3 separate regions of the Homo sapiens genome follow, and regions 1 and 2 are each linked to region 3. The links come from fine-mapping of genetic effects on gene expression. A gene starts in region 3. Each other region holds a variant in brackets. All regions are shown on one strand. Distances are from middle to middle.

Region 1 (10,536 bases), 19 kb after region 3:
TCTCTGATGATGATTTTGAGGGCTCCAAATTTAAAGGGGAAAGGGCAGGATATTGAGAAGCGCACAGTTTTCACATAAACCAAAGGGGCAGAGGAAAAATATGGGGAATCTGCATTTTACATAAGATAACAGACAAAATGGGGTAGAGGGAACAATCAGATATGCATTTGTGTCTGGCGAGCAGGGTGACTGCACATGTAAAGATAAGCTATCAATTTGCATTGCCATGGTGAAGTTTTAACAGCTCACCAGGAATTTCCCTGTGGGCAAAATATGGGAGAGGCATGTAGCTTTTCATCTTGTAGCCATCTTATTTAGGAATCAAAAGCGGGAGGCAGGTTTGTGTGACCCAGTTCCCAGCTTAACTTTTCCCTTTGGCTAAATGAGTTTGGGGTCCCAAAGTTTAATTTCCCTTCACAGAACACAGTTTTATTTTATAAAATTAACAAAAACACACAATATGTAGATACATATTGATAAAAATAAAACTATGTAAAAAGGTAAACAACAGAATATTCAATTTAGTAATAAAATAACCAACTGTGGATGGTTATCTTGAATTGAAGGGTTGGAAATAAGGGATACAGGAAAATCACACACAATAAACTAAATTGGAAGATGGGCCTAATGCTAACACCAAAAATGGACCTCTTGACGGCAGAATTGCATTTATCTATCCAGCCTCAGGAAGAGTTACACAACCTCAAGTTTCCTCAAGTGAGGCTGTGTGTCTATGAAATGTGGGGCATGGAGAAGCAAGCATAGCACAGTTTTCCAGGAGGCGCTGGCTTAATAAAAGAGGGTGGAATGTGAGGGGCCAAACTTTTCATGTGTAGATCCCCTCTCAAACTCTACAACCAGATAATTCATTAGTTTAGTGGTGAGAACTAAAAGATGAGACATGAAACTAAAGTTATTCAGGTATAATTGTACCTTATAGAAACTGGACAAGGGGGATGCCACTTTTCCCACTTATACAATCATTCAGTGTATTGAACTACCCTGTGAAAAGATAAGTACAATTGCATTAATAGATTAAGTAAACTACAACAAGGTATGGGGTCACACACCTGTAGTCCCAGCTACTCAGGAGGCTGAGACAGGAGGATTGGTTGAGCTCAGGAGTTAAAGGCTGTAATGAGTTATAATCATGCCACTGCACTCCAGTATGCGTGACAGAGTAATACTTCATCTCTTGAAAAATAAAGAGAGAAAAGAGAGAAAGAAATTATAGCTTCAAACTCTATGCTATTTTGAAGACATAAAGTAAAATGATAAAAAGAGTTGAAAATAAAGGAGTGGACAAAGATACATCTGAATCTAATCAATTTTTTGAACTTTTATTTTAGGTTCAGGGGTACATTGGGTATATTTTAGGTTCAGGTGGGTGGAGGGATGTCCTTTAGTTCTGTCCTTTGTCCAGTACCCATGAAGATAAGCTGTTAATTTACATTGTTAGGGTGAAATTCAACAGAACTATTTTAGGGTACAGATATCAAGGTCCACAAGAAATTTCCTTGTGAGCAAACTGAAGATGGTATATAGCCTTTTGTCTTTGTAGCTCTCTATTTAGAGGAAAAAATAAGAGGCCATTTTATGTGACTTGGGTCCAAGCTTGACTTTTCCCTTCAACTTAGGGAATTTGGGGTCCTAGTATTTTTATTTGCCCTTCCTAGCTGTTATATGTAAGTTGCTCTGGTGATTTTTCCTGAAGTTTATATTGCCTAACTTCAGTTGGCAGGGCTTTAAGAAAAAGCACAATTTTAATCTTTAGTGAGTCTAACCAAGAAAAATGGAAACATCAGTTCAGAGACTTGTAGAGACAAAAATATTTAGTATTTGGTCTAAATTGTAGCCAAATAACAAAAACTCAAAAACAATGGGCAGGGCTAGAGTCTAATAACAGGTGTACTATAGTGTTTTTTCTGAAATGCAATTTTTCTTTCTTTTTTTTTTTTTTGAGATGGAGTCTTGCTCTGTTGCCCAGGCTGGAGTGCAGTGGCACTATCTCGGCTCACTGCAAGCTCTGCCTCCTGGGTTCACACCATTCTCCTGCCTCAGCCTCCTGAGTAGCTGGGACTACAGGCGCCCACCACCACACCTGGCTAATTTTTTGTATTTTTAGTAGAGACGGGGTTTCACCATGTTAGCCAGGATGGTCTCGATCTCCTGACCTCATGATCCACCCGCCTCGGCTTCCCAAAGTGCTGGGATTACAGACTCGAGCCACCGTGCCCGGCCCCCGCAATTTTTCTTTCTTTAGTCTCTCATTTATACCAAAGACAAATCATAGTAAGACTAATTTACTTGTAAAATGTTTTAGTCTTACTATATTTGGCCTGATTCTTTGCATAAAGTATAGCAAGAATAGTGATTAGTGATGTAGGCATTTTTTAAGTTGGTGTTGCTAGAACTTTTTTTTTTTTTTTTTTTTTGAGATGGAGTCTCTCTCCGTTGCCCAGGCCGGAGTGCAATGGCGCGATCTCTGCTCACTGCAACCTCTGCCTCCCAGGTGCAAGCAATTCTCCTGCCTCAGCCTCCCAAGTAGCTGGGATTACAGGCGCTCACCACCGCACCTGGCTAATTTTTATATTTTTAGTAGAGACGGGGTTTTGCCATGTTGGCCAGGTTGGTTTCGAATTCCTGCCCTCAGGTGATCCGCCCACCTCGGCCTCCCAAAGTGCTGGGATTACAGGCATGAGCCACTGTGCTTGGCCACTAGAACTTTTTCATAAGGAATCTCAGGTTACACTTTTAAAAGCTTCTTAAAGCTGAGAAGCCAAGCCAAAGATTTGCCATCAGACTGTGCTTATAAAACCAGTGTATAAAACTGTGTAAAATATGTGTGTATAAAACCAGTGAATTCCTCTCTTTTTGAGGTTCCCAAAATATCTGGAGAGTCCTGGGCCTGTCATAAGGTGATGTTATTTACTTACCACAAGATCATCAGGAACCTCGTAAGGGAGCCATGTAGATGAGGCACCAAGCCAGTCTTTCCAAGGGGCTTTTTATTTGCTCTGTGAAGACAACCTAAATTGCTCAAAGCAGTCTGGTCATATCCAAAAATATATCATTCCAGTTAAAGCCTTGGTAAAATAACCAGTATATCCAATTGTGAGCTGTTACAAAAGAAAGCAGATTCTTACTGTGTATGCAAATAACTATATTGCCATAAATTAAGAATACTCACGAATAGCTTCCAAATTTTGGAGAAATCAGGTAGAGAAAGGTAAATGTTTCCTTGTTTTTTTTTTTTGTTTTTTTTTTTGAGACAGAGTCTCGCTCTGTCAACAGGCTGTAGTGTAGTGGCGTGATCTCGGCTCACTGCAACCACCACCTCCCAGGTTCAAGTGATTCTCCTGCCTCAGACACCCGAGTAACTGGGACTACAGGCGCGTGCCACCACACCTAGCTAATTTTTGTATTTTTAGTAGAGATGGGGTTTCACCATGTTGGCCAGGATGTCTCAATCTCTCGACCTCGTGATCCGCCTGCCTCAGCCTCTCAAAGTGCTAGGATTATAGAAGTGAGCCACCACGCTCGGCAAATGTTTCAATTTTATTCACAAAAGTATACTTTACCCAATTGTTGTAAACTATAAATATTAATGTTTAAAATAAAATTTTTCTTGACTCAAAAACAAAACAGGAAAAGAATCAGCAATATTTTAAGCAAAAAAGTTACAAAAATTATTTTAGTCTTTTATCAGTTTAGTTCCATGTAATTCATTCCTGTTCTGCTTGAAGTTATCAACTTTCATGAACCTATTAACTTTGTTTACTAGAGTCTTGAAAAATTTCACATTGTTCAATGTTATGATCTCCAAAGTTATCAAAAACCTGTATTCAAGAGTACTTGTCAGGATCCTTATGAATTTTTTTGAAGAAGAATCAAATTTTGGACTATAGCTGATTATAAACTGTCTTTCAAGAAGAATGAAAATAAAACAATAAATGTCTATGGATGGCAAAAGACTTAGAATAGCCGTAATTAAAGACACAATTGACAGCCAGGTGTAGTGGCTCATGCCTGTAATCCCAGCAATTTGGGAGGCCAAGGTGGTCGGTTCACAAGGTCAGGAGATCAAGACAATCCTGGCTAACATGGTGAAACCCCATCCCTACTAAAAATACAAAAAAAAAAATTAGCTGGGCATGGTTACAGGCGCCTGTACTCCCAGCTACAGGTAGGAGGGAGGTAGGAGAATGGCATGAACCCAAGGAGGTGGAGCTTGCAGTGAACCGAAATGGCGCCACTGCACTCCAGCCTGGGTGACATAGTGAGACTCCGCCTCCAAAAAAAAAAAAAAAGACACAATTGACAAGAAAATTTGCTTATTTCTGTGGCATATAACAATTTAACACAATAATCATATGAATCATAACATAGGCCAAGACATATCATAATTTTAGGAATCTCATACAATTTTGGAGCACATATTAATAACACATTTCTGCAAATGTAACTCAAAGTTAAATGCCACTTCTATTTGACAGTGTTTTCCATATGATTTTTATATACCAAAATTAAAAGTTAGTTTCAGGTCAAAAAGACTTAATTTTAGAATATAAAATTTGATTTTGAGAAGTTTGTCAACTATTAAAGGCTTAAAACACTTGATAGGAAAATAAGAAAGGTTTCAAACCCTGGATCAAAATAGAATTACACATAAGTAATCCTTATCTTACACAAATAAGTTACTCATTTAGCCAAAGTGATAATTCAAAGATTTCAAAAAGCAAAAACCCTTACTCTTTGATAGAGAGGAGACTCAGTTCTCTAAACAGTCAAAAAGACAAAGACAGCATGAGGCAAACTCTCTTTTTTCTTTTGCAATGTATTTAAAAGGTGAACAAAAAATCTTGCATTTGTTATCTCTTTTTTTTTTTTTTTTTTTGTTGTGTTCTAGGAAAACTTTATTTATAAACACAGGCAGCCAATAGTTTGCCAACTCCTATTTTAGAACATGAGTGAGAATCATCAATAAAACTACAAATCTTTGCAACAGTCAGAATAAGAAAATAGTGAATTAAAGACTATTAGCATTTCAGCCATCTAGGACAGTGTTCTTCTCATTATCATACGTAAATATTTGTTTTGTTTTTTTTTTTTTTTAATTGATCATTCTTGGGTGTTTCTCGCAGAAGGGGATTTGGCAGGGTCATAGGACAATAGTGGAGGGAAGGTCAGCAGATAAACAAGTGAACAAAGGTCTCTGGTTTTCCTAGGCAGAGGACCCTGCTGCCTTCCGCAGTGTTTGTGTCCCTGGGTACTTAAGATTAGGGAGTGGTGATGACTCTTAACGAGCATGCTGCCTTCAAGCATCTGTTTAACAAAGCACATCTTGCACCGCCCTTAATCCATTTAACCCTGAGTGGACACAGCACATGTTTCAGAGAGCACAGGGTTGGGGATAAGGTCACAGATCAACAGGATCCCAAGGCAGAAGAATTTTTCTTAGTACAGAACAAAATGAAAAGTCTCCCATGTCTACTTCTATCCACACAGACCCGGCAACCATCCGATTTCTCAATTTTTTCCCCACCCTTCCCGCCTTTCTATTCCACAAAACCGCCATTGTCATCATGGCCCATCCCCAGTGAGCCGCTGGGCACACCTCCCAGACGGGGTCGTGGCCGGGCAGAGGGGCTCCTCACTTCCCAGTAGGGGCGGCCGGGCAGAAGCGCCCCTCACCTCCCGGATGGGGCGGCTGGCCGGGCGGGGGGCTGACCCCCCCACCACCCTCCCGGACGGGGCGGCTGGCCAGGCAGAGGGGCTCCTCACTTCCCAGTAGGGGCGGCCGGGCAGAGGCGCCCCTCACCTCCTGGATAGGGCGGCTGGCCGGGCGGGGGGCTGACCCCTCCACCTCCCTCCCGGACGGGGCGGCTGGCCGACCCCCCCCGCCGCCTCCCTCCCGGATGGGGCGGCTGGCCAGGCAGAGGGGCTCCTCACTTCCCAGTAGGGGCGGCCGGGCAGAGGCGCCCCTCACCTCCCGGACGGGGCGGCTGGCCAGGCGGGGGGCTGATCCCCCCACCTCCCTCCCGGACGGGGCGGCTGGCCGGGCGGGGGGCTGACCCCCCCACCTCCCTCCCGGACGGGGCGGCTGGCCGGGCAGGGGGCTGACTCCCCCTCCCCCCTCCCGGACGGGGCGGCTGGCTGGGCGGGGGCTGACCCCCCCACCTCCCTCCCGGACGGGGCGGCTGGCTGGGCAGAGGGGCTCCTCACCTCCCAGTAGGGGCGGCCGGGCAGAGGCGCCCCTCACCTCCCGGACGGGGCGGCTGGCCAGGCGGGGGGCTGATCCCCCCACCTCCCTCCCGGACGGGGCGGCTGGCCGGGCGAGGGGCTGACCCCCCACCTCCCTCCCGGACTGGGCGGCTGGCCGGGCGGGGGGCTGATCCCCCCACCTCCCTCCCGGACGGGGCGGCTGGCCGGGCAGAGGGGTCCTCACTTCCCAGTAGGGGCGGCCGGGCAGAGGCGCCCCTCACCTCCCGGACGGGGCGGCCGGCCGGGCGGGGGGCTGACCCCCCCACCTCCCTCCCGGACGGGGCGGCTGGCCGGGCAGAGGGGCTCCTCACTTCCCAGTAGGGGTGGCCGGGCAGAGGCGCCCCTCACCTCCCGGACGGGGCGGCTGGCCAGGCGGGGGGCTGATCCCCCCACCTCCCTCCCGGACGGGGCGGCTGGCCGGGCAGGGGGCTGACCCCCCCTCCCCCCTCCCGGACTGGGCGGCTGGCCGGGCGGGGGGCTGACCCCCCCACCTCCCTCCTGGACGGGGCGACTGGCCAGGCAGAGGGGCTCCTCACTTCCCAGTAGGGGCGGCCGGGCAGAGGAGCCCCTCACCTCCCGGACGGGGCGGCTGGCCGGGCGGGGGCTGACCCCCCCCACCTCCCTCCTGGACGGGGTGGCTGCTGGGCGGAGACGCTCCTCACTTCCCAGACGGGGTGGCTGCTGGACGGAGGGGCTCCTCACTTCTCAGACGGGGCGGTTGCCAGGCAGAGGGTTTCCTCACTTCTCAGACGGGGCGGCCGGGCAGAGGCGCTCCTCACATCCCAGACAGGGCGGCGGGGCAGAGGTGCTCCCCACCTCTCAGA[C/T]GATGGGCGGCCGGGCAGAGACGCTCCTCACTTCCTAGATGGGATGGCGGCGGGGAAGTGGCGCTCCTCGCTTCCTAGATGGGATGGCGGCCGGGCAGAGACGCTCCTCACTTTCCAGACTGGGCAGCCAGGCAGAGGGGCTCCTCATATCCCAGACGATGGGCGGCCAGGCAGAGACGCTCCTCACTTCCCAGACGGGGTGGCGGCCGGGCAGAGGCTGCAATCTCGGCTCTTTGGGAGGCCAAGGCAGGCGGCTGGGAGGTGGTTGTAGCGAGCCGAGATCACGCCACTGCACTCCAGCCTTGGCACCATTGAGCACTGAGTGAACGAGACTCCGTCTGCAATCCCGGCACCTCGGGAGGCCGAGGCTGGCGGATCACTCGCGGTTAGGAGCTGGAGACCAGCCCGGCCAACACAGCAAAACCCCGTCTCCACCAAAAAAAAAACGAAAACCAGTCAGGCGTGGCGACGCGCGCCTGCAATCGCAGGCACTCAGCAGGCTGAGGCAGGAGAATCAGGCAGGGAGGTTGCAGTGAGCCGAGATCGCAGCAGTACAGTCCAGCTTCGGCTCGGCATCAGAGGGAGACCGTGGAAGGAGACCGGGGAGAGGGAGACGGAGAGGGAGACGAGAGGGAGGGGGAGGGGGAGGGGGAGGGGGAGAGGGCTTGTTAGAGAGCTTGTTATCTCTTATATGGAAATTTTGTTAAAAAATTTGTATCTCTATATCCGTATATTATTAATGCTAAAGCTAATTTTAGTAAAATTATGAACAGGTCTATCTAACCTCAATTAGTTTTGACCACAGAAGATAAGATTTGTATAAACCTTTTATAACCTTTTATAATTTTTTAAATTTAGTTTTATCTGTTATTAACTATTAAAAATTTAAAACTTTAAAACAAACATCTAAACTAAGCTAGGTGTGGCAGCTCACACCTGTAATCCCAGCACTTTGGGAGGCCGAGGCAGGAGGATCCCTTGAGTCCAGGAGTTCAAGACCAGCTTGGGTAATAAACTGAGATCCCGTCTCCACAAAAAAAAATATTTAATTACCCAATTATGGTTGTGTGCACCTACAGTCCCAGCTACTTGGGAAGCTGAGGCAGGAGGAACCCTTGAGCACAGAAGTTTGAGGTTATATAGTGAGCTGATAACACCACTGCAGTCCAGCCCAGGCAACAGAATGAGACCCCATCTCGAAACCCTCAAAACTGAACAACATTTTTCTTACCAACAACTATATTTTTATGTCTTTTTAATAACCTTTTTTTTTTTTTTGAGACTAAATCTTGCTCTGTCACCCAGGCTGGAGTGCAATGACACGTTCTCGGCTCACTGCAACCTCTGCCCCTCGGGATCAAGCGATTCTCCTGCCTCAGCCCCCTGAGTAGCTGGGATTACAGAAGCGTGCCACCACACCCAGCTAATTTTTGTATTTTTAGTAGAGACAGGGTTTCGCCATGTTGGCCAGGCTGGTCATGAACTCCTGACCTCAGGTGATCCACCCACCTCCTCCTCCCAAACTGCTGGGATTACAGGCATGAGCCCCTGCGCCCTTGCCAATCTTCTTTATTTAAAACATCTTTTTTGTATATGTTGCATATAGAAGTGTTTTTGTGTATGTTGTATATATTTTGTATATAGAAGCATTTTTTGTATCTAGAAGGCTTTTCTTTTCCTTTTTTTTTTTTTGTGAAATAGAGGATCTTACTCTCTTACTCTGTTGCCCAGGCTGGAGTACAGTGGCATGATCATAGTTCACTGCAGCCTAGACCTCCTGGGCTCAAGCAGTCCTCTCACTTCAGCCTCCTGAGTAGCTGGGACTACAGGCATGTGCCACCATGCCTGGCAAATTTTTTTTTTTTCATAGAGACAAGGTTTCACCATATTGCCCAGACTCATCTTGAACTCCTGGGCTAAAGCAATCTACCAGCTTTAGCCTCCCACAGTGCTGGGACTACAGGCATGAGCCACCATGCCTGGCCTAACCTAGAAGTTTTAATTATACATAATAATTATAATATTAATGCTTAATAACTCTGATTTTTAGTGAAAAATCAAGGAAATAAGTAATTTTAACTGTTATATACCAGATGTAGAGACCAATACAAAGGAAAGAGCTCTCAAGACAGTCTCTGTAGGACCTGATTTCTCTCAGCATGGCCAGGAGGCACAGCTGGACTAGGGAAAGTGAGGCACAGGTCATGTCCCCAGTCCTCACAACGGCCACTGGTCTAGGCCACTGGTATGGGTCTCTCATATATATATATGGCTTGAATATCAGCTTTTAATTAAGCTGACTTCTGACCATGTAGCTCTTTTTTAATTAAAAAAATCTTTCAAAATTTCTTATTATCAGATTTTAGCTGAGACAAACAGCTAACATTGCTGGCTTTTGAACTTTTTAACCAAAGACACCCTACATAACCAAGAATGCATGAGGTGTCTCCAAAGAGGCACAAAGAAGTACTCACAAGATCCAGAACCAACTTCAAAGATAGCTCAAAGAAGTAAGAGTTTTGCTAATCACAAATGGGGTATAATTTGTATCTGTCTGATTATATTCTCTCTAGGGTCTCAGCTTCTCATCTGGCCATCACAAAGGCCCAAAAAGCCCCATGTGCCCTTACAGATGGAAGACAATCAAAAGCTGTCCATGGAAAGGAAAAAGATGAAAAACAAATGAGTACCCCCAAAAGTAAAAAGTCACATGATTATCAAACCAAAAGGGGCTGATTCCCTGCCCAGGAGTCAAACCCAGGCCACTCTGGTGAAAGCAGAGAATTTTATCTAAACTACAAGGTGGAGCAGACTACTTAGTGAATCTTGAATGGGATCCAAAGTAAGGAGTTTGAGCTCATAAAGGGTTTTAACTTTGTTTTCAGTTAGGGGTTTGCTCTTTAATTTTGTCAAGAGAATTTCTAAGGCTAGCCATGACACCATTGTATGTCTTTCTTTTAATGTAATCTTCCTATAAATACAAATAAGGCAATTGTTGAGAATGAGAGATCTTTAAAAATGTTTTTTGAGTTTAGGAGTCTTTCTAATTTAAAGGATCCATCGTCTGGACATTGGAAATTAGAATTTCCACTGGTATACTTAATTCAATGCAACAGCCTCTTCATTGGAAAACCCAAGATATAAATTTCTAGGTTTAATGTAAGTTTTTATCATTTAAGAAAAAGATGTTTCTTGAAGAGGCATAGAAGTGGCAATCCTAAAGAGTCTCTCCCTCAAAAATTTACTCCCAGGAATAGGCCAAGATAGAAAGATTCTTATTGCCACACATGGTTAAGGATGCTGTTTGTGCATACAGTGCCTCTGGTGACTTAGAAATTTGTGGGGATCACCAGTCACAGACCTCTTAATTTGTGACACCAAGTAGGCTCTTTTAGGATAGGACTTTTCTAGCACTAACCAGGCAACAAGGGTTGAGGCAACAAAAACC
Region 2 (8,296 bases), 30 kb after region 3:
TACAGATGAAGGTCTCCCTCATAAAACACAGTTTTTAGGACTACTTCTGTTTGCAGGCCCTCTGAACCACTATCATGAAGTATGTCAAACAAATAGATTTTGGAGTGAAATGTTTTTATTTCCTCAGGAAACCAGCCCTAACAACTCTGAGGCAAGAAGAGGCTTCAGGACTGGATATGGGACTTAGGTGACAGAAAGTCTCCTACCTCTTCAAAAGCACAAACATACTTTATTTCTGTTAAAGAAAAAATGTAACACAGTTGTTAGGATGGTAAAGCAGACTTCATTCAGCATTATTGCCATAGGTGTACTTTGCAGTAGAGGATTGAGATTGGGATCAGCTCCTAATACAAGGAAAATAAGGGATTTACAGCCAAAGACTGAGAGGTAGGGATGGAACGTGGGGCAGGACAGGGGTTAGTGAATGGAAAATTACTAAAAGGATACGTTAATTTTTTCTAAAGTGACCTAACAGTATTCTTGCTATAGGCAGACCAGGGTGATCAGATATCAATTGGAGAATAAGGAATGTGGTCAGATATCGAGGGCGAATCAGATATTGAAGATAGGGGATGCTGGCTAAAACTGGGCTCTTGAGGCAATGTCCAAGGTCCAAGCATAGGTGGGAAAGGGGTGAGGAGACTGTGTCTAGGGTTTGGTCAAGGAGGGTCTTTGTCAGTCCCTTCTACTTCACTCTGTAAAACCCCCTAGTAATTTTATTGGAACCTTAGGGAAGGTGTTACACAAACACAATTTAAGCTCAAGGTTGCCAGGAGATTTTGACCCCTTCATCCTAGAAATTCATGTGGTGGCCACTGTGATGAAGGAAACCCACATATCCTGGAAGAGGGAAGGCCTTGCCCATTTCTCACAAATCTGCTCATCCAGAATTGGCCTCACCAGTTAGGAGACTCAATTCATTTGGACCAATCCTGTCTTTCCACTAGAACTTTCCTGGCTCTACTTAAGCCCATTTTCCCCAAATGTGCTCTTCCAGAATTGGCCTTGCGAAGTGACTGCTTGGTTCTCTCTGCTTCTTCCTCATGCATCTTCCCAGTTCAGCATAAGCCACCATACTGATCCTAGGTTGACCCTTCTTCAACACCTGGAACAGCATCCAGGAACCTAGACAGAGGTCAATTTGGAGATTTGTTTGGCATCCTGGTCCCCACCCAAAATTGAGGTCCTAGCTCTGCAAACCACCCCCAGAGTACTCTGGTATCTCCATCCTGCACTCCTGGCTTCTCTTTCCATTCCCAGCTTTCCTATGGTGCAGGAAGGTGCCTCCCCTTTGGCCCCACATCCCCAGTAACTTACTTGAGACAAAGTTGCAATGTAAAAAGCCATGTTTGCTCATTTCCGTTGCCAGCATAATTTCACAAAGCCCCTGACTCTGTGATGATGTCCTTCTGTCTGGGAGAATGCTTTAAAAACAAAACAGGGGCTGGGCACAGTGGCTCATGCCTGTAATCCCAGCACTTTGGGAGGCCGAGGCAGGTGGATCACCTGAGGTCAGGAGTTTGAGACTAGCCTGGCCAACATGATGAAACCCCGTCTGTACTAAAATACAAAAATTAGCCAGGCATGGTGGCAGGTGCCTGTAATCCTAGCTACTCGAGAGGCTGTGACACAAAAATCACTTGAACTCGGGAGGTGGAGGTTGCAGTGAGCCGAGATCGCACCACTGCACTCCAGCCTGGGTGACAGAGTGAGAGTTTGTCCAAACAAACAAACAACAACAACAACAACAACAACAACAGGCAGGATACAGCACATTGCCCCCCACATCTCCTGTCTGAGTCACTATGTTCCTTAAAAGATAAATGAGCCGGGCGCAGTGGCTCATGCATGTAATCCCAGCACTTTGAGAGGTCAAGGCAGGTGGATCACCTGAGGTCAGGAGTTCAAGACCAGCCTGGCCAACATAGTGAAACCCCGTCTCTAACAAAAATACAAAATTTAGCTGGGCGTGGTGGTGGGTGCCTGTAATCCCAACTACATGGGAGGCTGAGGCAGAAGAAACGCTTGAACCCGGGAGGCAGAGGTTGCAGTGAGCCAAGAGCGCGCCACTGCACTCCTGCCTGGGCGACAAGAGCAAAACTCCATCTCAAAAAAACAAACAAACAAACAAAACACATAAATGAACTCAGTCCTTGCACATAATATGTGACACATATTTTCCTACACATAATATGTGACAGGGTTAGTGATTATGCTCTATAATCTATAACCAGATGTACTCTTGCACCCAAGCATTGATGTGATTCTGCTTTAATGTAAAATCTGAGCAAGTTTGACGTAAGTTCTGAAGGCATACTGAAACCTCCATGACCTGTATATAAGTTATGAGCAGAAACGCTGTTTCTAAGCAGTCTGCAAAATCTCTCTAAAAGACTCCTCCAGGGCTGTAAGTCCTCAGTCTGTAGTCCTCAGAAAGACTTCTAAATAAATTTAAATATTTAAAAGCTTGATTTTTTTTTTCTTCAGTTGACATTAACAAAGATTATCTCCTTGACCAATCTCTAGACAGGTTCCTGGGAGTACTCTTTACTAAGCTTCAACCTTGGTCTATAAAGACTTGAAAAACACTAACACAGTGTCTTACAGCTCAAGGCCACAACTCTGGGATGACCCTAGCCCTCCTTTAGATGCCTGACTGAGAAAGATCAAGGCTACAAAAAGAATATACTGTGTGTTCGAGGCAAGACCTGAAAATAGGGCTCCTGTCTCCCAGCCTCTGTGGGAGGGCAGGAGCCTAGCTTTGTTTAGCCCCAGTTAGGAGACTCAGTTCATATGGACCAATCCCCCCTTTCCACTTTCTATAATTTTTCACTTTCCTGTTTCTACGCAGGTCTTCCTCACTCACACACCTCCCTATTCCCTCAGTCTCCCTTTAAAACACCCAGTCACCTCTATACCAATAAAAGTTGTGTTCATGCTGGACTCCTCCCTATTGCACCAAGGGCCATGCACCTGTCCTGGCCCAGGCCCGGCCACCAGCTCCTCTGCTCCCTGTCCTTCCTCAGCAGCCAAACCAGAAACATGCATGGGTAAGAATTTTGCATTTTTGCACAGTTTTATCACGTGGGCAAAAACACATGTGCAAAGTTCTCTGCAGGCACGATCTCTACCATTGTGTTTGAGCAAACCTAGAGGTGTCATGGTAGCAATACCTTTTGGCACAGGATCACCCATTGAAGAGTCTCAGTGAAAGAAATCTCAAGGAGGCCAAAGGCAGGTGGCAGAGGCAGCCTTGCATCAACTCAGCCACTGCTCCTGGGCTCTACTCCCAACAAGACTTGGAACACTGGGTGGTGGCTGTTGGGAGGCAGGAGGAGGGTGATGCTTGGTAGGTCTCCATCATCTGATTTCTCAGGCTCCAGTTGTCTGTTCCTGGAGCAGGGTGATCCAGCCAAGTGAGGCAGTTAGGGAGTGCATTGGCAGGGCTCAAGGGAGGCTGTGACTTGGGGGCATCTCTGGGGGCATCTGTGTCTCCTCCTGGGTTGCAGTCATCGGTTCCTAGGTGGGTGGTTCTGTGCCCAGCCTAAAGGTGCTAGGCACTCTGGGTTCTTGTCTCAGGTGGGCCCATTTCAGAAGTCCACAGGAATGGGAAAGCAATTCAATGTCCTGGTGGTCCCAAGAGAGGTGACCCAGCTTTGGATAGAAAGCAGGCTGCCAGGGACTTGAATCCTCTTGTACACTGGAACATGCTCTACAGAATCCCAGGCCTCAAGCACAAGTTGTTGAAAGTGCTTCACATCTGTCCTGTTTCAGGTGACAAAGGATGAGTGCCCTTTTTTGTGGTCTTCTGGCTGATTAGGCAGTCCCAAGCAGATAGGGGCAAGCTGGGTGGTGACAGGAAGCCCAGAGCTGATCGCAACAGAAGAATGGCCTGGTGTTATAAACATAAAAGCCAATCACCTTTGATGAAATTTTCTAGAATGAAATCCTTTTGGTGACAGACTGGGTTAGAAGTTGAAAAGAAGAGTATTAGCTTCCTAGAAGGAAGCTCTTTTGGGGGACACTGGCTTGTAGTATGCTGCATGATTTGGGGCATGATTATTGCCCCAAATCAC[G/A]TAGGTAGTTCTGAAACCCAGGTCTCTTAGCAGAGGAATTCTTGGGGAGATGCCTAAGGAATGGTTTGGGTTTTGGATTAGAGGTGGGGCAGAGATAGTTGTACATTCCTAACTTGGACTTTCACAAGCCCAGTTTTGGCTTTTACTGATGAATTGCTAAGTTAGAAGGATTTCAGAATGTGTGTGTATATGTGTAATAGCAAGAAGCCAAGTTCTCTGGCTGGCTGACTCGGTTATTTTATCATCTCTGAAATGGAAGTGAAATTTGCTCTCATTTTACAAGGTAGCTTTCATGAAGGCATTCCATATAAAAGTGAATATTCAACATAGCATAGCAGAAAATAATTTGGTCAATTGCTATTAATACTAATATCATTATTATTGATTTTATCATGGATTCAAAGATAAAGTAATGAGAACAAATGTAAAACGGTACCTTTCTTGGAGTATTCTGTCTGAAAGTAGATTATGTTTCCTTCTCATATCATAGCCATAATGAAATTGTATTGTAATACGTTTTCATCTGAGTCAAACATTCTGTTTGCAAAAACATCAAGGGGTATGAGAACTAAAAATAAAATCCTAAGGCCTCCAACCAATTGAATGGACCCTCTATTGGCCAAGGGGACCCCAGAGAAACCTGAGTTCCTAGCTATGACAAGACAGGAGGTCAGACATAGCTTGTTATACCTACTCCCTTTTGCAGTTTAAACATGACTGACTAGCATTATTATTACAATAGGGATCATGAGACTGACAGAACAGACTCCTTATAGCATTAAGACACCAAACTATAAATGAGACCTAAGGCTGTGCCAGGCAAGGGTTGAATCACACATCTCTACACTTAAAAAACAAATTATGTTCTAACTACCACAAGGTTTTTTTTTTTTTTTCTAGCAGCTAATCAAGCGCTGGCCTCAAGATAATCACTATTAAAACCATTACAGTTCATCCATCGCCAGACAGTGACTAACTGAGGCCCTTGTTCCACAAGCTATAAATGCAGCTTTGATTGGACAAGAGACTGATTTCAGTAACTTTCTCCTAATAAGAAGACCACCAGCATGCACTGTTCACAGAGGCTGTGCACTTGAGTGCCTTCGTGTCCCTGTTTCACCTTTTGACATATATGGCCTAACTGTAATACATTTGAATGTTGTCTCCACCCCAGAATGAATATGGGCTGTATGTAACAGGCATATTTATTCAGTACACATGCATTAGGAACACATTCATGAATATTTATATGCCTCCTGTAACCTGTTGAATACGTATACTTGGTCAACCCATTCAACATAAATCCCTGTTCCACCCTCCACTTCCTCAAAGTGCCTGCTTCTGTCTTTGGCTGGGGACTACACTTTCCAGCCTGTCAGAATAACCACCCTACAGGCCATAACACATTATAAGAAATAAAATTAAGTCTGTGCATGGTGGCTTACATGTGTAATACCAGCACTTTGGGAGGCCAAGGTGGGCAGATCACTTGGGGCCAAAACCAGCCTGGAGTTCAAAACCAGCCTGGCCAACACGGCAAAACTGCGTCTCTACAAAAAAAAAAAAAGAAAGTTGTCCGGGGACAGTGACTAACACCTGTAATCCCAGCATTTTGGGAGACTGAGGCAGAGGGGTCACCTGAGCCCAGGGGTTTGAGACCAGCCTGGGTAACATGGAGAAACCCCATCTCTACAAAAAGCACCAAAATTAGCCAGGCATGATGGCACATGCCTGTAGTCCCAGCTACTAAGGAGGCTGAGGTGGGAGGATCTCCTGAGTCTGGGGAAGCTGAGGCTACAGTGAGCCATGATTGTGCCATTGCATTCCAGCCTGGGTGATAGAGTGAGACCCTGTCTCAAAAAAAAAAAAAAAAAAAAAAAAAGAAAAGAAAAGAAAAGAAAATCTCCTTTCTAAATTAATAATTGTGTGATTCTTTTAAGTTGACAGATACAAATGCAGATTTTTTTGGTCAAATATCATTCTTACTGTAAAAGTCTGATTAGTTTCAACATTTCACAAGCATGTGTTGATATCCTTCCATATGCCAGATGCGGTGATGGGAGCCATATACACAAAGATGAAGGACTGGCTACAGCTTTCACAGACCTTACAACCTACTGAGAGAGCAAAGACACAGTGAAGAGATCATTCAGAATACAGTCCAACTCCAAGATCATTGGGAGAGCTTATTTGAAGACCAGAAAGGTTACTGAACATGGTGACTCTCTTCAAAGCCAGACCTTTGTCCTTGAATTTAGGGCTTCAAAAAACAATAGTAGGGCCGGGCGCAGTGGCTCATGCCTGTAATCCCAACACTTTGGGAGGCCAAGGTGGGCAGATCACCTGAGGTCAGGAGTTCGAGACCGGCCTGGCCAATATGGTGAAACCCTGTCTCTACCAAAAATACAAAAAAAAAAAAAAATTACCTGGGCTTGGTGGGGGGTGCCTGTAATCCCAGGTACTCAGGAGGCTGAGACAGGAGAATTGCTTGAACCCGAGAGGCAGAGGCGGCAGTGAGCCGAGAACGCGCCATTGCACTCTAGCCCGGGCGACAAGAGTGAAACTCCATCTCAAAAACAAAAACAAAAAGAAAAACAAACAAACAAACAAACAAAAAAACAGTAGAAAACCTAATGAGAAACCATGGCACAGGAAAACAGAATAGCAGAACGGTCAGAGGAAGCATAGCACTAGAAGTTTACCTATTTGAAAGATTTATGAGACACTTAAGACAGAAGAGCTCTGCCTGTCTGGTTAAAATGGTGGGACAGACAAGATTTATTTGAGCTCAGCAGCACTTGAAGTCCACTGGAGAGGTGTAGAGCAGCTAGCCCATGTTATGGTTGCAATGGAAAAAAGTCAATAGGGTGAGAATCAAGAATGGATCCATCTTGTGGATGATGACATCATTCAGCAACAAGGTACAATTGCTACAATAGAGGATCATATTTCCAAGCCAGGTCCAAAGAGGCATCAGGGCTGTCAAGCTTAGGTATAAATGTTGACAGAATCTTCCTTTGGATTACCTAAGGCTCTGAATTTCTGGGAAGATCTTGATGCCCTCTAACCCCAGCAAATTGATGCTAGCTATACATTGAATCTGACAGTGGCAGCTCAAACAGATTTTAAACACATCTTGTATGTATCCATTCATACACATTTACATATTAAAAACATGTCTTCAAGTTTGAGCTTTCTTGGTGTATCTCAGGTACCTTTTGACATGGTTCTCTTTTTATTGTATGTACTAATAGAGTGAGAACCTACTTATTACTTGGGGGCTGCACCAAGCCATTCATGATAGCTCGACCCCCATGACCCAAACACCTCCCTTTAGGTCCCACTTCCAATATTATCAAAATCTTTTTTATTTTATTTATTTATTTATTTATTTATTTATTTTTTGAGATGGAGTCTTACTCTGTTGCCCAGGCTGGAGTGCAGTGGCGCGATCTTGGCTCACTGCAAGCTCCACCTCCTGGGTTCATGCCATTCTCCCGCCTCAGCCTCCCAAGTAGCTGGGACTACAGGTGCCCGCCACCACGCCTGGGTAATTTTGTGTGTGTGTGTGTGTGTGTGTGTGTATTTTTAGTAGGGACGAGGTTTCACTGTGTTAGCCAAGATGGTCTTGATCTCCTGACCTTGTGATCCGCCCGCCTCAGCCTCCCAAAGTGCTGGGATTACAGGTGTGAGCCACCGCGCCTGGCCTTTTTTATTTTTATCAAGACAGGGGTCTCTCTGTGTTGCCCAGGCTGGTCTTGAACTCCTGGCCACAAGCTATCCTCCCACCTTGGCTTCCCAAAGTGCTGGGATTACAGGTGTAAGCCACTGCTCTGTCCCGAACCAAATTTCAACATGAGATTTGGAGGGGGACAAATATTCAAACAATATCATTGAGATTAAAAATTATTAGAGAAGTTTCAGGGTTAGAGCCATGCTTCAGTTTAATCCTCAGTATAAGAATTATGTAGAACTAAGACAAAATGATGAGGAAAAGATTGCTAGAATAATAAGGAATTGTTATATATCATGGAAATATTGACACAAAACTATCAAAAATAATTGAGGGCCGGGTGTGGAGGCTCATGCCTGTAATCCCAGTACTTTAGGAGGCCGAGGCAGGTGGATCACAAGGTCAGCAGATTGAGACCATCCTGGCTAACACGGTGAAACCCCGTCTCTACTAAAAATACAAAAAATTAGCTGGGTGTGGTGGCAGG
Region 3 (10,536 bases):
GAAGACTTTTTTTTTTTTTTTTTCACACAGTGACAGTTCTGAATTTGAATATAAAGGAGCTTAGGTGCTATAATCTGAATGGAACGTGGGAATAAAACTGTCTTTGCCTTGTACTTCTTGTTAGATTAATTAAATACCAATTATCAGTATAAGAAAATGGCAATAAATTGTCAAAGTGGAATTGGAAAGTGTTTTTAGGATTTGGATATGAAGCAGGCTTCCCATGTGACCATTCTCACTTCTTATTCTGAAGTCTAACACTCTGCTTTTCTTTCTCTCCCTCTCTTCATTGATTCTTCTAGTGGCTGGTGTTTGGGTATTGTGGGAACTGAGCTTTCATCTCCTATGTTAGCCATAGAGATGAGGGCTTTGAGGGCACCATGGAATCCGATTGCTGGAAATAAATCAATCTTAAAGGAAAGGAAAATTTAAAAATCAGGTGCAACAAAAGCAAAATGAGAAAACTGCTAAACTCTACAATTCTATAAAGAAGAATTGCATAAAAAGGAAATAACAGGAAAAGGTAAGAAAATTTAAAAGGATATCAGAAAATATAGCATACAGGGTCAGAAAGATTTGAGAATATGACGAGATGGTTTTAGAAGGCAGGATGGGGCCGGGCACGGTGGCTCATGCCTATAATCCCAGCACTTTGGGAGGCTGAGGCAGACGGATCACGAGGTCAGGAGATCGAGACCATCCTGGCTAACACGGTGAAACCCTGTCTCTACTAAAAATACAAAAAAAAAAAAAAAAAAAAAAATTAGCCGGGCGTGTTGGCGGGCACCTGTAGTCCCAGCTACTCGGGAGGCTGAGGCAGGAGATTGGCGTGAACACGGGAGGCGGAGCTTGCAGTGAGCGGAGATCGCGCCACTGCACTCCAGCCTGGGAAACAGCGAGACTCTGGCTCAAAAAAAAAAAAAAAAAAAAAAAAAAAGGCAGGATGGGCTGGGCGCGGTGGTTCACGCCTGTAATCCCAGCACTTTGGGAGGCCGAGGCGGGCCGATCGCCTCAGGTCAGGAGTTCGAGACCAGCCTGACCAACATGGAGAAACCCCGTCTCTACTAAAAATACAAAATTAGCCGGGCATGGTGGCCCGCGTCTGTAGTCCCAGGCAGGAGAATTGCTTGAACCCGGGGAGGGGGTGGGGCGGAGGTTGCAGTGAGCCGAGATCTCGCCATTGTACTCCAGCCTGGACAACAGGAGTAAAACTCCGTCGAAAAGAAAGGAAGGAAGGAAGGAAGGAAGGAAGGAAGGAAGGAAGGAAGGAAGGAAGGAAGGAAGGAAGGAAGGAAGGAAGGAAGGAAGGAAGGAAGGAAGGAAGGAAGGAAGGAAGGAAGGAAGGAAGGAAGGAAGGAAGGAAGGAAGGAAGGAAAAAGAAAGAGAGAGAAAGAAAGAAAAGAAAAGAAAGGTGGCAGGATGGAATTTGGAAAAAATTAACATTTTAAAAATAGAAATGTAAAGGCGGATGGAAGGAGAGAAATTGAACAACAGGAAATGGATACCATGCATCTCTGAAATAATAACTGTTGAAAATTAGTGTGTCAATTTTAGGGTTTAATGCATTATTATAAACAAGTGGATAAACAAATATAAGTGCATATACCAGTTATGAAAACATGTCTTAAGGACTATGATTAGGACTTATCTATTACTCAGTGTCATGCTTCTAATGGCCGGTTGTGTTTTTTTTTAAAGAAAGAAAAGCCCCTATAAATGTGGCTCCTAAATATCCAGCCCTCGAGGTTGTTCCTTTGCAGGAGTCTGTTCCTTTTGGCCGGCTGCTGAACCTAGGGAGGCAGCGTGGGATGGAGTTGGCAAACATCCTGCAAGTCCACGACCCATGAAGAGCCGCTATGGTACCACTAGCAGTGCTAGGACCCAGAAACTAGCGAAACTGTTTAGGAGAAGCTGCGGGCTGGACCCACCAGCGGTGCTGCCACGGAGGTCAATCCTGCTTTGACAAGTGAGCGGTGCTGCAACTGAGAAAGTTACAGTCTGAGGAACCAGGGGTACTGGGACACAGGAAAAGGAGTCAGCCAGCTTGCTTTAGGCACACAGTAAGGGAAGGGTCCCCAGAGAACCTCCGGAATAAAAGAACTTGCACAGGCGCCTGGCCTAAATGTGCCCTTGCTGACTAAGGGCCCGCATATGCACTGGGGCAATGGGGGTGGAGCCACCAGGAATTTGCGCCTTATACAAACAGGGAACCTAGCCCCATCAGCTTTTAAATAAAAGCCCTTGTATTTAAATATTAAGGGGGCAACCAGAAACCTGTTCTCAGGACCCCTCTTTTTGCTGTGAGCTTTCCTTTTCGCTTAGTAAATTCTACTGCACTCACTCTTCGATATCTGCGTGCCCATTTCTTCATGATGGTGAAACAAAAACCTGAACTTAGCCGGGCGCGATGGCTCACGCCTGTAATCCCAGCACTTTGGGAGGCCGAGGTGGGTGGATTACCTGAGGTCAGGAGTTCAAGACCAGCCTGGCCAACATAGTGAAACCCTGTCTCTACGAAAAATACAAAAATTAGGTGGCAGTGGTGGCGTGTGCCTGTAATCCCAGCTACTCAGGAAGCTGAGACAGGAGAATCGCTTGAACCTGAGAGGCGGAGGCTGCAGTGAGCAGTGATGGCGCCATTGCACTCCAGCCTGGGCGACAGAGCGAGACTCCGTCTCCAAACAACAACAACAACAACAACCTGGACTTAGCTGAGCTGAGGAGCCAAAATCCTGCATCAATATCAAGTGTCACACTGAATAGCGGTGTGTCCTGTGGCAAACTTTATTTTTGGCGCAGTTAAGGCATTGCTACTAAGAAACTCGTCTCTGAGAAATATCGGTGGTTGGAAGGTTGTAGGGTGCTTCCACCGAGAAAGCGCCTACCCAGTGAAATACGCCTGTGACAGAAAAACCGAGGCCAAGCCCTGCCAGCAGTCTTGCCCAATCACGGTGCTGAGACAGTGAGACAGCCAGCCCGGGGAAAGTAGCCGTGCTAGGACACAGGAAGCGATACCACAAAGAACATGTGAGTCTTGTGAACAAGGAATGTTGTTTTGTTCAGCGCTACCAAGAGCGCGGCAACCGAGAAAACACGGAGTCGCCCCTAGTGGCGAAAGTGCGGATGCGAAACCGCTGGCTCGGCGTAAGAGCAGAGCCGCGGAAGAGAACCCTAGCGGCGGGGAACTAGCTCGCCTTCAGTGCTCACGGGAGAAGGCAAGTTAGAAAGAACCTGAGACGTGACACTGAAAATCAGTAGAAGAAATACGCCACATTTATTCTACCGGGGAAGACAGTGGGTAAGAAAAAAATACCGTAACATTTAAATTAAAAAATAATTAAAAATTTAAAAGCAAATAGAAATTAAAACAAAATACACTGATAACCTCGCTGCCAGAACAAGATACACCAAAAAAAAATTTTTTTTTTTGAGTATACAAAACATACAAAGCATCCTACAAACAGAAAGAAATTGCAAACAGGGTCGAATGGTGAGATCCTACCATTATATTTGTCAGCACTAAACCCGTGCCTCTTGCGCCTATCCGAAGTTTCCTCGGATTAAGAAGAAACAGCCATGGTTAAACCGGTATTTGCGACACCAACAATTATCTGTAGCCGACGTACCCCAACTTCTACATGAGTGAAAAATCGCCAGCATAGCCAGGGCGAGACTATTGCGAATTCTAACTTGGTATGATTTAAAAATTCCAGACACTGCTAAATTTTTTTAAATTGCATTCTTCAGTACCTAGATTAATACAGGAGTTATAAACCGCACGCATGGCTATAATGGGGGCTCCTATTACGGAACAGGAATTTGCTACTACTAAAATTATGTAGGCATGGTTAAAGCCAGAATTGTTACAACCAGAAATCGCAAACTGGAATAACTCTCAACTTGCTACGGTAAGAAATAACTAAACTCTGACTTGGTCAGACTAAGAAATCAGGAGTTTGAGACCAGCCCAGGCAACATGGCGAAATCCTGTCTCTAGGAAGGATACAAAAAATTACCCGGGCGTGGTGGCGCGTGCCTGTGGTCCCAGCTACCCCGGAGGCTGGGGTGGGAGGATCGCTTCAGCCCGGGAGGCGGAGGTTGCAGTGAGCCGAGATCGCGGCACTGCACTCCAGCCTGGGCGACAGAGCCGGACCCCGTATCAAGAAAGAAAGAGAAAAGAAAAAGAACCAAAGAAAAAGAAAAGTCACCATCGCACGGTTAAGTCTGCCTTGCTACAGCTAAACAGTGACTTCCTAGGACCAAGAAATCGCAGCCAGGGCTAGACCGATGCCCTAAATCGGGACTTGCTTAGGCTGAGAAATCACATTTTGGCTAGTTATTTGGACAAGAGGTAGAAATAGCGGGCACCGCGAAATCGAAACTTGCTAGGACCAAGAAGCCAACGACGGGCGAAACCGCAGGGGCCTGCGATAGAGACGCCAGCGGCGCCGCCGGGGGACTGGGTTCAGGAGGCCGAGCAGGAACCCGTGCGTCGGCGCTCGCGGCGCTGTGAAGAGACGGCGTCCGCGCAGCTCCTCTGCCTCTGGCTCGGAGGAGCGGCGGGCTCCCCCGCCCAGCGCCGGCGTCGCCCGGGAACCCCAGACTCTGCGCAACTGGCTGCGATTCCAAATCCCTCAGATCGGCTACCAGAGCGCTGCCGCCACCGAGAAAATGGAGGCACCGAGGAACAAGATGTGCCGCGACCAAGAGAACTCGGCTTGGCGAAATGGCGGTGCTGGGACCCTAAGAGTGACGCCAGCCGGAGGAGTTCCCAAGGACAACATCCATTTTGGCGGAACCAACGGTGTTGTCACGCAGAAAATGTCGACCCTCGGAAAAGAGAGGTTCTGCGACCGAGAAATTCGGTGCAACAAGTGCTGTGACAGAAAACCCCCCGCTCGGCGCTGCTGGCGAAAGAGCCAACAAAACGCTGGGTGCTGCCACCGTGACACCGACTTTAGGACCCCGGCCTCGGATGGAGAAAGGAGGGTACGGAGCCACCACATAACTTCCTAATGTCTTCAAATAGCGAAAGTGCTAGCCGGAAACTGCCGGCTGGGTTTACCTATTGGTGCTCGTGTGGGACTAGCAGATTCGAGAAACCAGCGGGACTGGAACCTAGTACACTTCGGCAGTTGAGAAATGACTTACCAGGACAAATACTGCTTCTGGCTCGATGGTGCTGCCCATGAACATCCGCCGGCTCTGAGAAACGAGCTGCACTGTCAGTGAGAAACCGTGGGCACTGAGAAACGAGCGGACTGCAACTGATAACTGCCCACCCAGTGCCACTACGACAAAGTGCTGCTGGCACTACTCCCACCCTCCGTCCTCAAATCAGTCCCCTCCCGCCTAAGAAGACCTTTATTTTTCCTAGCGAAGTCATACTGAGGGCCCCATCAACCGATCCCTTGCGATGCGCATGGGAAAAGGAGGCAGTATAGGGACCGAGAATCGGGCGGATTGGGCTGGCCCTGGTAACAAAAGCCATCCGGGTCGCCAACCGTCTTCCACTGCAAGAAACAAACCTTCCAGTGGCTGGGCTCCGCCCTTCTCCTTGGTCAGAGCCCTCCAGGCTCCTAAGGGCGAAGCCGACACCTCATCCCTTTGGAACTTGAAGTTCTCAGTCCAAGACCTCCGTGGAGAGTGAAAGACTCAATGCCTCCTGACCGAGGCTTCAGGCCTGCCCCGGCAGCTAGGTACCTCTCCAGGGGATGGAACTCTGTGGGAACTGCTATTTAATTCTGATGGTTAACTCTGTCAGATGGCCTTGATATATGGGAATAATCGTTGCAGGAGGGTAGGGGAAATAAGAATCGCAAGACTCTAGCACAGGACGTGTGGATTGATGGTGAGGCCTTTGCTCCCTCTCCCCTTGAAATCCTCAAAGGGCAGTTCCCGATTTCTATCACCTTTGAAATTCATCCCTGATGTCTTCTCCATCTTTGGGAAGTGCAATGCAATTTCAAGCTCTTGAATCTTCCCTCTCCCACATTTGTCAAATATACTGACGCTACAAACTCCTTTCTTACAGGAAACCTGAAACTGCCATTGAGCAGAAGGAAAACATCCCTTTCCAGAACCTTTCTCGTTTTTCTAAAAATCTGCACTTTTGGAAGTGATCCCCCAAAGAGACCTCCAGACTCTACCATGAGTGTCTCCAGCTGAACTCATCGTGTCTAATCCTCACCCTAGCTTATCCTGTTCAAATCATTTCCATCTTTTTCTGGATGAACCTGGGCGGATGTCAGACCAGAGAAGAGCACAGAATGTACCAGAGAGGTAAGAAGACCCATTTTGGGCTCTCACTTCTCACCCACTCCCAAGATGGTCACCTCCAGTCTTCCCCCCTATACCTTACCCTTTCTTCAGCTAGCCAAAACCTGCCCTGGTACTTGAGGCTTCTTCAGTTGCCTTCTTTTGCAGGCAGTAGAATAAAGGAAAGAGGGCAGTGTCAATAGAAGAAAAGTTACAGCCACTTTATCTAATTGAAGATACTGTGCAGAGCCTTTGAAAAAACAAAATATCTCACCCACCATTCCTCTCTCCGTTTCCACCCTAGCTTCCTATTTTAGCAAAAATGGTGGGATCAGCACCTCTGGAGGGAAGGGGTCACTCTTCCAGGTTAGGAATGTGGACAGGAGTTATGGAGCTTACTTCCCTAAAGGAGGAGGCATTCTAGTTCCGGCATTCAGATTCTGTCTGATTCCAATATGGTGTTTGTGTGGGGTGGTCAGAGAAAGGGCAAGTCGGCAACTGTATATTCCTCAGCAAGAGACTATAAGACATTTGCATTTGGAAAATCAGGAGAGATGCTGATATGGTTTGGCTCCGTGTCCCCACCCAAATCTCACCTTGAATTGTAATAATCCCCATGTGTCAAGGGTGAGACCAGGTGGAGATAATTGAATCATGGGGTTGGTTTTCCCCATGCTGTTCTCGTGTTAGTGAGTGGGTCTCACGAGATCTGATAGTTTTATAATTGCCTGGCATTTTCCCCTGCTGGCACACATTCTCCTGCGGCCCTCTGAAGAGGTGCCTTCCATCACGATTGTAAGTTTCCTGAGGCCTCCCCAGCCATGCAGAGCTTTGAGTCAATTAAAACTTCTTTCTTTATAAATTACCCAGTCTTGGATATTTCTTCATAGCAGTGTGGGAACAGACTAATACAGATGTGGTAGAGTTGGGTGCTGGGTGGCAATGCTAAGTGTATGCAGGTTCTAGGCACCAGATCAAATCTGGAATGCAAACTGTGGGACACAAACCACAAATGATGCCCAGCCTTTAATACTTTCTTTCATTGTTTGTCATATAGAAGAAGAAACAAAGAATAAAGAAAAGCATTTTTTTTGAGACGGAGTCTCGCTCTGTTCCCCAGGCTGGAGTGTAGTGGTACGATCTCGGCTCACTGCAACATCCACCTCCCAGGTTCAAGTTATTCTCCTGCCTCAGCTCCCAAGCAGCCAGGATTACAGGTGCATACCATCACACCTGGCTAATTTTTGTATTTTTAGTAAAGACAGGGTTTCACCCTGTTGGCCAGGCTGGTCTCAAAGTCCTGACCTCAAGTGATCCACCTGCTTCGGCCTCTCAAAGTGCTGGAATTACAGGCATGAGTCACAGTGCCCAGCCGCAAAGTATATTTTTGTAAAATTTCATCAAGATAAATCTGGCTAAACCAATAAACTAATAATAACAAAACTTGGGTTATTGTTGACTAAAGGAAGGTGGCACAAAATGGAAACATTTTTAAACATTCAAAAAAAAAAAAAGACTGGTCAGGCGCAGTGGCTTACACCTGTAATCCCAGCACTTTGGGAGGCCAAGGTGGGCGGATCATGAGGTCAGGAGATTGAGACCATCCTGGCTAACACGGTGAAACCCCATCTCTACTAAAAATACAAATCCTGGCTAACACGGTGAAACCCCGTCTCTACTAAAAATACAAAAAATTAGCCAGGCGTGGTGGCGGGTGCCTATAGTCCCAGCTACTCGGGAGTCTGAGGCAGGAGAATGGCGTGAACCCAGGAGGCAGAGCTTGTTTGCAGTGAGCCAAGATCGCGCCATTGCACTCCAGCCTGAGCGATAGAGCAAGACCCTGTCTCAAAAAAAAAAAAAAAAAACAAGGATAGTCTTTACACAGAAGTGGTATGCACAGGTGAATTGTCTGGGAAGTCAGGATGTTGCACAGAAGCTATGCAAGTCATAGATTAGAAAAGCAAGAATCCACATTCATGCTTTCCAGCATAGATGAGGAGATACTTTTTCTCCACCTTCTTAGATTCAGTGGCTGGGCAGAGAGTGCTGTGAATTCATCTGACAACAGGCAGATTAACACGAGAAAAGGAATATAAGTTTTTTATTTTTTATTTTTTTATTTTTTTGTTTTGAGACAGAGTGTCACTCTGTCTCCCAGGCTGGAGTGCAGTGGCTCACTGCAAGCTCCCACCTCCCGGGTTCACACCATTCTCCTGCCTCAGCCTCCCAAGTAGCTCAGACTACAGGCGCCCGCCACCATGTCCAGCTAATTTTTTTTATTTTTTAGCAGAGACAGGGTTTCACCTCCCAAAGTGCTGGGATTACAGGCATTAGCCACCGCGCCCAGCCAAGTTTTTTAATGTTTAATCTAATGTGCATGGAGGCATCATAGAAAGAACTGAATATCCAAAAGTGTGGTGAAATTTGAGACTTTAGATACCATCTTAATGATAGTGGCAGGAGGCAGACAAATCCTAGGGAGACAAGGGTGGGTCCCTGGTGAAACCCCACCTTCAAACCAAAGACAGTTTAAAGCATGAAAGCCAAGCTACAAGTCTCCAGTAAATCCATGGACCGGATTAAGAATCTCTCTTCCCCTTTAGCACACTTCCCTCTGATTGATCCACACACTTCACTTAGTGCACTTTCCTCTGATTGATCCCCACACTTCACCTATTTTACATATACCTGCCCTTCCCTAATTGTTTTTTTACACAGTTGTGCCCACCTTTGAGTGGTGCTTTTGTTTTAGCCTTTTTTGCATATGCACAAACCAATCAGCATGCACTCCCCCATTCTGAGCCTATAAAAGCCCCAGACCCTGCCACATTGGGAGAGAGACCACCCAACTTCTGGTGGGAAACCATCCTCGAATCCCCTCTCCACTGAGAACTGTTTTGTGGCTCAATAAAACTCCTCTCTGCCCTCCTCACTTTTTGATTTTCAGCATAACCTCATTCTTCTTGGATGCAGGACAACAACTCGGGATCCACCTAACACGGGTACAAAGAAGGCTGTAACACGGGAAGCAGCTGTTGGGCCAAACCAGCCCTGGAGCTGTAGGCCAGAGCAAGACCACAGGACTGACAGAGCTGTTAACACGCTGACATCTTTCGGGCTGCAGAGGGCGGGACTGAAAGAGCTATTAGCATGTTGTAACACCCACTCTGGGGCTTTGGGGTCACGGGCATCCCTGTTTGGGTGCCATCACATTCCCCTCATCTGGATGCCAGAGTCCACCATAGGAGTCACTTGCAACATGCCTGGTCCAGCCACAAGTCCCACACAGAGCCTGCTCCTGTGCTGGTGCTTGGAGCTACCAGTGGAACCCCACACTCACTAGCTCACACACCCCTCCTGCCAGGGGCTGAGTGCACAGTCATGGTGGCCACAGGATCTGCACCAGAGGACATGCCAGGCACAGCCCAGCAAACCGAGTAGATGGGGCATCTCCTGTGGTTAGCCTGGGCTCCAGCAAGGCCTAGGTAGGGCATCGCCAGCCAGAGGTCTCTGGCTGGCAAAGTTGCTGAGAAACATCCTATGTCATTAAGGAGATGGGGAGGGGCAGAGGGGCACTTATGGAAATATGAATGATTTTTTTTTTTGAGACAGAGTCTCTCTCTGTCGCCCAGGCTGGAATGCAGTGGCGTGATCTTGGCTCACTGCAAGCTCTGCCTCCGGGGTTCATGCCATTCTCCTGCCTCAGCCTCCCGAGTAGCTGGGACTACAGGTGCCCGCAACCACACCCAGCTAATTTTTTGTATTTTCAATAGAGACAGGGTTTCACTGTGTTAGCCAGGATGGTCTCGATCTCCTGAACTCGTGATCCATCCTCCTCAGCCTCCCAAGGTGCTGGCATTACTGGCATGAGCCACTGCACCAGCCACAAATGATATTTTAGAAGATAAATGGTCCTTTAGAAGAATAGATAAAAGATATGACAGTTTTTAGAGAATGTCTTTTTTTGGGTAGGGTGGGTGTAATCACCCAATGGTTTCATCTTGCCCATTGTCCACAAAGGCCAATGCACTGAGAACAGCAGCTTTTTTGCAGCAAAGAAAGACTTCAATAATTGCAGGGCTGGCCAAGTGGAAGGACAGGAATTCATTCCCAAATCCACCTCCCTGAGAATTCTTTTTTTTTTTTTTTTTTTTTTTTTTTGAGACGGAGTTTCACTCGTACTGCTGCCCAGGCTATATAGTGCAATGGCACCATCTTGGCTCACCACAACCTCCGCCTCCCAGGTTCAAGCGATTCTCCTGCCTCAGCCTCCCGAGT

Alleles and levels. Positions count from the first base shown, and alleles are read on the strand shown. Sizes are in standard deviations (SD) of each study's normalised expression.
In carriers of allele C in region 1, the expression in esophagus mucosa of the gene that starts at base 5,504 in region 3 tends to be higher than with T alone (small effect, 0.31 SD a copy in GTEx).
In carriers of allele G in region 2, the expression in monocytes of the gene that starts at base 5,504 in region 3 tends to be higher than with A alone (moderate effect, 0.51 SD a copy in BLUEPRINT).

What was found. PIP is the estimated chance that this variant, and not a neighbour inherited with it, causes the effect.
Region 1: its variant is the best candidate, but not a certain one, in a credible set for the expression of ANXA2R-OT1 in esophagus mucosa (GTEx, PIP 0.73).
Region 2: its variant is the best candidate, but not a certain one, in a credible set for the expression of ANXA2R-OT1 in monocytes (BLUEPRINT, PIP 0.50).

Annotation. Positions count from the first base shown.
Region 1 is chr5:43,081,430-43,091,965 of GRCh38, forward strand. The region is part of intron 2 of LOC100506639 (a long non-coding RNA gene); the gene reads left to right. Among named protein-coding and RNA genes, the nearest start is that of ANXA2R-OT1, 19 kb to the left of the region's middle. The variant C/T (reference allele first, on the strand shown) is at 7,089.
Region 2 is chr5:43,092,896-43,101,191 of GRCh38, forward strand. It overlaps LOC124900972 (a long non-coding RNA gene), which reads right to left and starts at 4,598. Exons shown (of 2, transcript XR_007058762.1): 1 at 4,513-4,598; 2 at 1-3,892. LOC100506639 (a long non-coding RNA gene) reads left to right here. Exons shown (of 3, transcript NR_102752.1): 3 at 128-663. The variant G/A (reference allele first, on the strand shown) is at 4,077.
Region 3 is chr5:43,061,936-43,072,471 of GRCh38, forward strand. ANXA2R-OT1 (ANXA2R overlapping transcript 1) reads right to left here and starts at 5,504. Exons shown (of 3, transcript NR_104651.1): 1 at 5,363-5,504; 2 at 5,152-5,222. It overlaps LOC100132356 (a long non-coding RNA gene), which reads right to left and starts at 5,036. Exons shown (of 1, transcript NR_034127.1): 1 at 3,252-5,036. LOC100506639 (a long non-coding RNA gene) reads left to right here and starts at 5,088. Exons shown (of 3, transcript NR_102752.1): 1 at 5,088-5,851; 2 at 6,035-6,282. RefSeq lists an enhancer at 4,716-5,115.